Linked DNA regions of Homo sapiens: all the other regions are linked to region 1. The links come from fine-mapping of genetic effects on gene expression. A gene starts in region 1. Each other region holds a variant in brackets. All regions are shown on one strand. Distances are from middle to middle.

Region 1 (2,753 bases):
AGCTTCTAGGGAAGGAATGTAATTTTGCTGTCTGAGGCACTGATTCCTTGCTCCCCCTAAAGGCAGAAATGGAAGTTATTTTTCCCCACAGAGGGCTTCCCCCTCCTCCTCAGAAGACTCAACTGCCCTTCCTCCCTGCCTCCCAGCTACCCAGGTTCCGGGTCCCACATCATTCCTCACTGTGATTCAGTGCAGCCCCCAATGGGAGCAACGTGCCCACCCTCCTCTGGGCAGAACCCTTTTCCTTGCATTCTGAGATCCAGTGAGGGGGGCAGTACCCCCAGAGGCCAGGTTGGGTTGTGGCTAGCTAACATTGGGGTCCCCAGCCTGACTCTCTTTGCCTTCCTAGAACCCTTGCCCAATACCCACAAACAAGGATTTCTCAGGTTGGGATCTCTGCGAGGCATCCATCCATGTCCAGGGTCTGGTCATTAGTTAATATCAGTGGACTGCCTAAACCGAAACTGGCAGAAGGTGGCCAGGGGAGGGGTCTGGACCCAGTGGAGAGAGTCAGGAGCCTGGGATTCTTATTTTGGTCCTGTTAGGATTTGCCCTGTGACCCTCCGGAAGTCCCTTGCTTCCCTGAGCCTGCTTCTTTATCTGTAACATGAGGGGATTGGACTGGATGCCTTATGGCTTAGCGCTGTGCTATGAAGAGGAAGAAGGAGGAAGGAAAAGGAGCGCAGAGCGGGTTACACTGCCAGGAGATCCTGGGAAGCTAGGTCACTTCCCTGAGCCTCAGCATCCTTATCTGCAAAATAGAAATTGCTAATAGACTAAAAGGCAATTCTGAAAGATGGATGAGAAAGGAATATAATGACTCAGGGTAGAGCCTGCAAAACAATATGGGATGAGAAGATGCAGGGACTGGTTTCATGGAGAGAGCAGGGTTTTAGGATTGGGGGAGGGTGCCAGGGCTACCGACTGCTTTGGGAGATCCCAGAGGGGGCATTCTGAAGTCCTGCAGAAGAGATGCTGTGCCGTGAGGGGTGAGGGGTCGCTGGAGGCCAGACCAGGGCTCCCAGGAGTCCTGCATTGAGAAGGGAGAGAGTGGACACAGGAAGGATGCGCCTCTGTCCAGTCCTGAGGCTGGGCGCACACACCAGGCCCTTCGAAAAGCTCACATTTTTTCCAGCTTTTCTCACCCAGTATCACTTCCTTTGTTAAGAGGAGGGGGTGGGGGAGGAGACGGAGGATGAGGAGGGAGGGGCTGGCGGGTGCCGCCGCCGCCCCCGCCCCCTCCCGGTGTGCGGAGCCCGATTGTCACTCAGCTCCTGCGCCGGGGGCGACAGAGCCGCAGGCGCCCGAGTCGAGTCCCAGCCAGCTACCATCCCTCTGGAGCTTACCGGCCGGCCTTGGCTTCCCCAGGAATCCCTGGAGCTAGCGGCTGCTGAAGGCGTCGAGGTGTGGGGGCACTTGGACAGAACAGTCAGGCAGCCGGGAGCTCTGCCAGCTTTGGTGACCTTGGGTAAGTCTGAGTCTCGGTTCACCCCTGGGGCTCCCCAATGGGGGTGCAGGAGAGGGTTGAAAGAAGAGACCGGAATGCCCCCTTGGGGCAGGCCATGGGCAAGGTTCCCCGACAGAGCTGGAACGGGACCAGAGGACTGCTAAGATCCAGGCACCAGACGGGTCTCAAGTGGGTGGGCGCAGGGCAGGTGCGGGCACGCTGGGGAATAGGGAGAAACGCCCCAGCCTTGTCCTGGGCTCCGTCCCCAGACCCACGTCTGCCACCCCAGTCCCAGGTGCGAAACAGGGGCGCTACCTCTTTAAAAGCGTCCGGGGCTGAGTCTCTGCCGTACCATGTGATTGCTTGAAAGGCCGGGCTGGGAGCGCTGCGGCGGGAGCCGGAGGACTATGAGCTGCCGCGCGTTGTCCAGAGCCCAGCCCAGCCCTACCGCGCGCGGCCCGGAGCTCTGTTCCCTGGAACTTTGGGCACTGCCTCTGGGACCCCTGCCGGCCAGCAGGCAGGATGGTGAGCTCCCTGCATCCTGTTCTGTGCACAGGGGTGGGCAGAGCCAGTCATGGGAGACCCCTCTGTGCGTGTGTCTGTGTGTGCGCGCGCGCTGGGAGCTGCCTCACACCTGATAAAAAAGCCAGTGGAGGAGTGAGCGCTGCTATTTTAAGTTGCTGAATGGAACCTCTGGGAATGATAAAGGGAAGGGACAAAGATTAGGCAGAGAAGGGTCCGGGTGCCCCTCCAGCCTGGGTAGGAGCTGCATGTGACAAGTGGGACACATCACAGGGTACCTGGAGTTCCAGGGCAGCCTGAGCTCCCTGCCCCTCCCAGACGGGTCTCCCCATCCCAGGCTTCCCTGACCACACAGGTGCTTGCCTCGTGCCCCTTGGTGCCCGTCTGCTGATGTGCCCAGCCTGTGCCCGCCATGCCGCCCTCCATCTCAGCTTTCCAGGCCGCCTACATCGGCATCGAGGTGCTCATCGCCCTGGTCTCTGTGCCCGGGAACGTGCTGGTGATCTGGGCGGTGAAGGTGAACCAGGCGCTGCGGGATGCCACCTTCTGCTTCATCGTGTCGCTGGCGGTGGCTGATGTGGCCGTGGGTGCCCTGGTCATCCCCCTCGCCATCCTCATCAACATTGGGCCACAGACCTACTTCCACACCTGCCTCATGGTTGCCTGTCCGGTCCTCATCCTCACCCAGAGCTCCATCCTGGCCCTGCTGGCAATTGCTGTGGACCGCTACCTCCGGGTCAAGATCCCTCTCCGGTGAGTCCACAGCGCCGAAGGTACTCGCAGC
Region 2 (2,753 bases), 45 kb before region 1:
CTGCAGGGGAGAGGGTGGTTTCCACCCTGGGAGTGTGGGAGGTGCCAGGGGCAGAGGAAATGAACTTGAAGGGAGACGATCCTCCATGAATGTGTTCTGAGTATTTTCGGAGGGTAATAAGGGAGTGAATGTAGATTCCAGAGCCAAGGCACTGCAGCCCACCCAGTTGCCCTCCTCATTCCCCAGGGCAGTGAATCAGGGCTAAGAGTCATGGAAATGACCTTGGTCTTCCTCTCCAGCCCCTCCAAGGGGGAAAGACTAAACTCAGTGATACCAACTTGAAAAGAAGAAAATCCCACCAATGGGAGCAGAGTAGGCCAATTTGCAATTCCCAATAAGCCCTGCCTGACTGGTTTGGGACAAGCAGGCAGTGGGGGAGACCCTCCCTTCTGCACCCTCGCCTGAGTTCTGGGAGCCTCCAGAGGCTTCTTCTGATTCTTTTCCTTAGGCAGAGTTTCTGAAGAAACTCGGGGGGCACAGTGGTAACTCTCCTCTCCAGCAGTAAGGTCAGGAGGGTGGGTGTGGGAGAGATGGCCCAGCTGAGCCCGGAGCTGGTGCAGGGTGGTCGCTAGAGCCTCAGGCAACACTGGGTTAAGTCCGTTGTCAAGGGCCCCGAAGGATTAAGCAGGGCTGGAACGTACCATGCTCTGAATCCCTGCTTCGGTGATGATTCTGAAACTTATAATTTGCAATAAATCTGATGAACTTAGCCCCAGGCAGTTGGAATTAATAAAGTTTTCAGTAGATGTCCATGTTCCGTTTGAATTCTAGCTCCTGTTAACTCCCCAGTTAATCCTCATGTAATGTCTACCCAAAAATCTCTGTTCTCAATTTCCCACCCACCTTCTAACCTCAGGAAGCTAATGTTTGAAAATAGCACCCCAAATGAAGAGAACCCCAGCTTCTCTTCGATTGTTCTTTGTGGACCCCTTTACCCTCCCCGAGCTAAATCTGAATCTCCTTCATGCTGGGAGCTGCAAGCAGGAACCACAATCCCCTTCGGCCTGAAGGGAATGGAGGAGAATGGGGAGGGGCCATGCTATTTGGCCCGCAAGGAAATGACAGTGTCTGATCCCCCTTCCTCACCTCCCACTTCTCTACAGGGCTCCTGGTATTGTGACACCAGGGCAGAGGTGGGGACTAGGGAAGGGAAACCACAACTTCTAGCTCTGCAC[C/G]TTGGCTGTGGGCTGAGCACTGGGCTTACGAGGTGCTCAGTTAACTGAAACCAGCGGACCTGTTGGGACATAACACAGAGCACAGCAGCCTGTGAGCAGTGGCTTTGAAGTATAGTCATAGCCAGTTGTCCTCCGTGTCCCACAAGGATGTCTGTGGAATCTGGTCTCCACCTAGACTGAGGTCCAGACATGCTCGATTTCCTTTATCATGGTGAAAAGAGCAGGGGTCCCCAGTGCCTAGTGACCACCAGCAAGATGAGGCCCTTAGCGCTGTGGAGCCCCACCCACTAGGGTGTGTCTGGACTGCTCAGTGGGAAGGGGCAGGGCTGTCAGTCATTTCCCTCCCTCTGCATCATCACCGACACTCTTCTGGCAACCAGTCTTTATTCATTTTTTAAAAAAGGAAATCCAAATAAGTTAGCAAAAAAAAAAAAAAAAAAAAAAAATACAAAACAATGGCAAAACCACACAATGCTTTGTTAACAAAAGAAATCACCCCCAAGAGGCCCCAACCCCTTTTCCCTGCCTGTCCCCGGCAACTTCAGCACAGGAGACCTTGGTCGGATGGCAGCTTTACAAACAACACACGAAACAAAACAAAACATAAAACCACTGGAAGGTTCCCAATATTCACTGCAAAAGTTTGGCCCCCCAGGGACTTGGGAACAGAGGGCTGTTCCTCTCCCCTTCTTCTCTCTCAATTCAGGGCAGGCCCAGCCCAGCCACTGGCATCGGGAAGAGACCAGAACAGGAGACGTGCACAGCTTGTCCAGGTCAGGGCACTGCGTCTCTCAAACCGTTTCACTTGGGGGGTGGAATTAGAGGCCGCGTTATGATAAAAAGGAAGCTCCTGAGTTTGCCCCCTGAGCTGGGGCATACACGAGGGGGCGCTCTGGTCCCCTGCTTTACCTCCCTGGAAAGGGGATGCCCTCTCCTCTAAGGAGGCAGCTGAATGAGGGCGTCCAGTCCCTTGCTGGGGGGTGGGTTAACCTTACATGGATGAGGAAGGGGATAGTCTGGCCTATGGCACCCCAGAGCTGGCTTCCTAGCATCAGGGCAGCCTGGCTTAGGAGGCCCCTGCTACAGAAGTAGTGGCATCTGTGGCCAGCTTGGGGGGCTCGCAAGGATGCCCGGCTTGGAAGACAATCTCAGTTGGGCATGGTTTCATCTGGGAAGGCCACAGACACATCTTCCACTGTGATGCTGTCCACGATGGAGGTGAGGGAGTGCAGGTTGTGGGCATCTGTAGGGTCAGCCGTGAGCAGATGATCTGTAAGGGGAGGTGGGAAGGTGGTACCTGGGTGAGCAGTGGGGGTTCTTGAGGCCCAGAATAGAGGATGGGACCCTTGGGGTGACAGAGGTTTTCCAGGACAGATGAATGACAAAGCTCCGGAGTTCTACTCCCTAGTCCCTGCCTTTCCCCATGCTCTGTGAGTGTGTGTGTGTGTGTGTGTGTGTGTGTGTGTGTGTGTATGCGCCTCTTTTCTGAACTCCCCTAGTAGGTAGGGTTTGGAAGCAGCCACTCAAGTTGGAGCAGGATGGAGCTCCCCAGAGACTGGACCTGCCCTTTGCTCGGCC
Region 3 (2,753 bases), 72 kb after region 1:
GAAGGAGCCACGAGCCAAGGGATGCGGGCAGCTTCTAGAAGGTTAGAAAGGCAGGGAAATAGATTCTGCTCTGGAGACTCCAGAAGGAACACAGCCCTGTGGACATCTTGATTTTAGCTTTATCAAACTTATTTTAGGCTTGTAACCTCAAAAAACTGTAAGACATTAAATATGTGCTGTCTTAAGCCATTATAATTTGTGGTAATTAGTTATAGCGGCCACAGAAAACTAATACAGAGATTGTTTTCTCCATTGACAATGAGGAAGCAGAGAGCAGGTGACCTTTCCAAGTCACTTGGCTGCTAAATACAGAGCCTGTACTGGAGCCCAGTCTCTAGGCTTCCTTTGACCAGGCATGGCCCAAGGCAAACCTGAGTGCAGGGAGTGTGAGGACATGCCTGAAAGTGACCTTTCTCCTGCTAGGCAAGGGCCTGGAGGAGGTGAAACCTGCGTGGTCTTCAATGCCCCTGACATTTGAAAGAAAGTGCCAGCTCCTCAATAAAAACATGCTCGAGGCAGACCTACCCAGGTTGGCACTGGATGAAGACCTCCCTGGTGGGGAGAAAGAAGCAGCTGGATTGCATGATCCCTACCCTGTCCCTCGGATTCACCAAGATGCACATTTCCCTTGAGAGGTTGTAGCCAAGGTGGTCTCAGGGGCACTGGTCACCCCTTAACACTCTGGCCCAGGAGGTGGCACAGTCCTCCCCCTGAAAAGCAGAGCCTGAGCCAAGGCATTCAGATAAGACTCAGGGGAGGCTTGAGGGTGAGGCAGGGGAAGTGCACGCTTTGAGGTGGGTCCTGGACAGTCAGACGTTCAAGCTATGCTCGACTCCTGATTCCATACGGAGGGCGCCATCTGTTTAGGGACCCCTGTTGAAAGATGCACCCCTGCTCCCAAGTCGGGGCCCTCTTCCATCTCCCTAAGGCTAGTCTTCTGAGCTCTGGTTTCCAATAAAGATACAACCTTTCCCCAGGGATTGGAGCTGGGCACCTCCTCTTTGTGGAGACAGAGCTCTCTATCTACAGACATGACCTGACTCATCACTCAGGCCACAGCTGAACCGAGAGAATATAACAGTCCCCCAACATCCACATCACTTCCACACTTCCACTGTTTGGGTAAAGCATTACATTACTCTCTGGAGCCCAGAGTCTTTTGGCTGAAAGACTAATTCACTCCATTATTCATCCTGAGGGGCAAGGGAGACTTGCTATGGGTGCCAAGTGCCCAACACATGCTATTCCAGTCACAACCCGCCCTGCCGAATGCTGGAATGGAGGTGTTGGCCTTATCCCTCTCAGTAGGTGAGCAAACGGAAGCTGAGAGAGGATCAGTGCTTTGCCCAAAGTCGTGCACATTTTATGTGGTTGAGCAAGACTTGAACTGAATTCAGCTCTTTCAACACTGAGTGCG[A/G]GGGTTGTTTAAGTAAGGCTGCCCTCATGGGATAAAAGGAGAGTGGGAGGAAAAAGAGAGAGAGCCAATATTGTAAGAAAATTCATGAAACACAGTGGGACAATAGGACAGAACAGTTGAAACTGGGACTGTCCTAGATAGCTGGTATAGATCTTGCCAAGAAAGGAAGTCAGAAGCTAACTATAGACTGAGGACCACGGGTGTAAGAACACGGTCAGTCCCTGGATTCTGCCACTTCTCCTTGTTGGTAATTTTCCATTCTCCCCACTGCTCCCCTGCAATGACTAGCACATAAACCCTGAAACTGAAAGGGACAGCTAGGAAGCAGATAGCCAGTCTTTGTCCAGTTCTGCAGCTATTTTAGGGAGAGAAAGAAACTCAACAATATGGTGTTTATGAGGAAAGTTTTGAGAAAACGTAAAAATAAGCGGAAAGGAGAGTGAATCTTTGGTGGCTTAGAAGGATAAACTAAAGAGCTCACAGGAGTCTGCCAGGGACTAAGGGCAGCATGTGTTCATTCTTTCAGGAAAGAGTTACTGAGCCCCTATTAGGTGCCAAGTCCTGGGCTAGGGTGGGGAGAGTGAGGAGTGGAACCTCCTTTAGTTAGGACAGTCAGGGAGGCTTCTCCGAGGAGGTGATCTTAAGCAGAAATCTGAGGGATGAGAGGGAGTCAGCTACCTCAAGAAGAGAGAAAATGATCCAGGCAGAGAACACCATATGCAAAGTCCTGGAGGTGAGAAAGAGCTTAGTGTGTTGGAAAAAAAAAAAGAGAAAAGCACAAGCAAGCTGACCAGCTGGCTAGAGTAGTTTGGGGATGTGGGGAGAGACAAGAGGCCCCGGGGAGAGAGGCAGGTCTGTGTCCTGGGGCCTGTGGAAACCACAGAGGGGTTTTGTCCTCTGTGCAATGGGACACCACTGGATGTTTAAGCAGGTAGTCCAGGATAGAGTTTATGTTTTGGAAAGTCACTCTAGTGGCTCTGTAGGGAATAGATTTGTGGTATGGCAAGAGTGGAAGAGGCATGAACATAAGCAGCTGTTAAAGAGGTCCAGGCAAGAGATGCGGTGGCCTGCCCTGGGCTGGGGACGTGGAGGTGGAAAGAAGGGTGGACTATGGACATTCCTTGGAGGGAACATCCGCACACTTACAGATGAGTTGGATGTAAAAGGATGAGGGAATAGAGGGACCAGGAACCACCCAGGGGGTCCTACCTTTAGCAAGGTGGACAAGGTTGTGCTAATTGTTTAATGTGAGGAATTCATGGGGTGGAGATAAGTTTTAGAGTAGGGGGTCTGTCTCAGCCATATTAAAGAACTGTTTATGCCTTATCTGGGTAGA

Alleles and levels. Alleles are on the strand shown, and positions count from the first base shown. SD is a standard deviation of normalised expression in the study named. Not every link is listed here.
In carriers of allele G in region 3, the expression in fibroblasts of the gene that starts at base 1,266 in region 1 tends to be higher than with A alone (moderate effect, 0.58 SD a copy in GTEx).

What was found.
Region 2: its variant is fine-mapped to the expression of ADORA1 in whole blood (TOPMed, PIP above 0.99). The same link has a PIP of 0.9 or more in blood mononuclear cells.
Region 3: its variant is fine-mapped to the expression of ADORA1 in fibroblasts (GTEx, PIP above 0.99).

Annotation. Positions count from the first base shown.
Region 1 is chr1:203,126,461-203,129,213 of GRCh38, forward strand. ADORA1 (adenosine A1 receptor) reads left to right here and starts at 1,266. Exons shown (of 4, transcript NM_000674.3): 1 at 1,266-1,468; 2 at 1,818-1,972; 3 at 2,325-2,722. The coding sequence starts at 2,382. RefSeq lists an enhancer at 990-1,970.
Region 2 is chr1:203,081,587-203,084,339 of GRCh38, forward strand. MYOG (myogenin) reads right to left here. Exons shown (of 3, transcript NM_002479.6): 3 at 1,543-2,445. The coding sequence ends at 2,324. It overlaps MYOPARR (myogenin promoter associated myogenic regulatory antisense long non coding RNA), which reads left to right and starts at 2,209. Exons shown (of 3, transcript NR_160550.1): 1 at 2,209-2,393. The variant C/G (reference allele first, on the strand shown) is at 1,176.
Region 3 is chr1:203,198,846-203,201,598 of GRCh38, forward strand. No RefSeq gene overlaps it. Among named protein-coding and RNA genes, the nearest start is that of CHI3L1, 14 kb to the left of the region's middle. The variant A/G (reference allele first, on the strand shown) is at 1,418.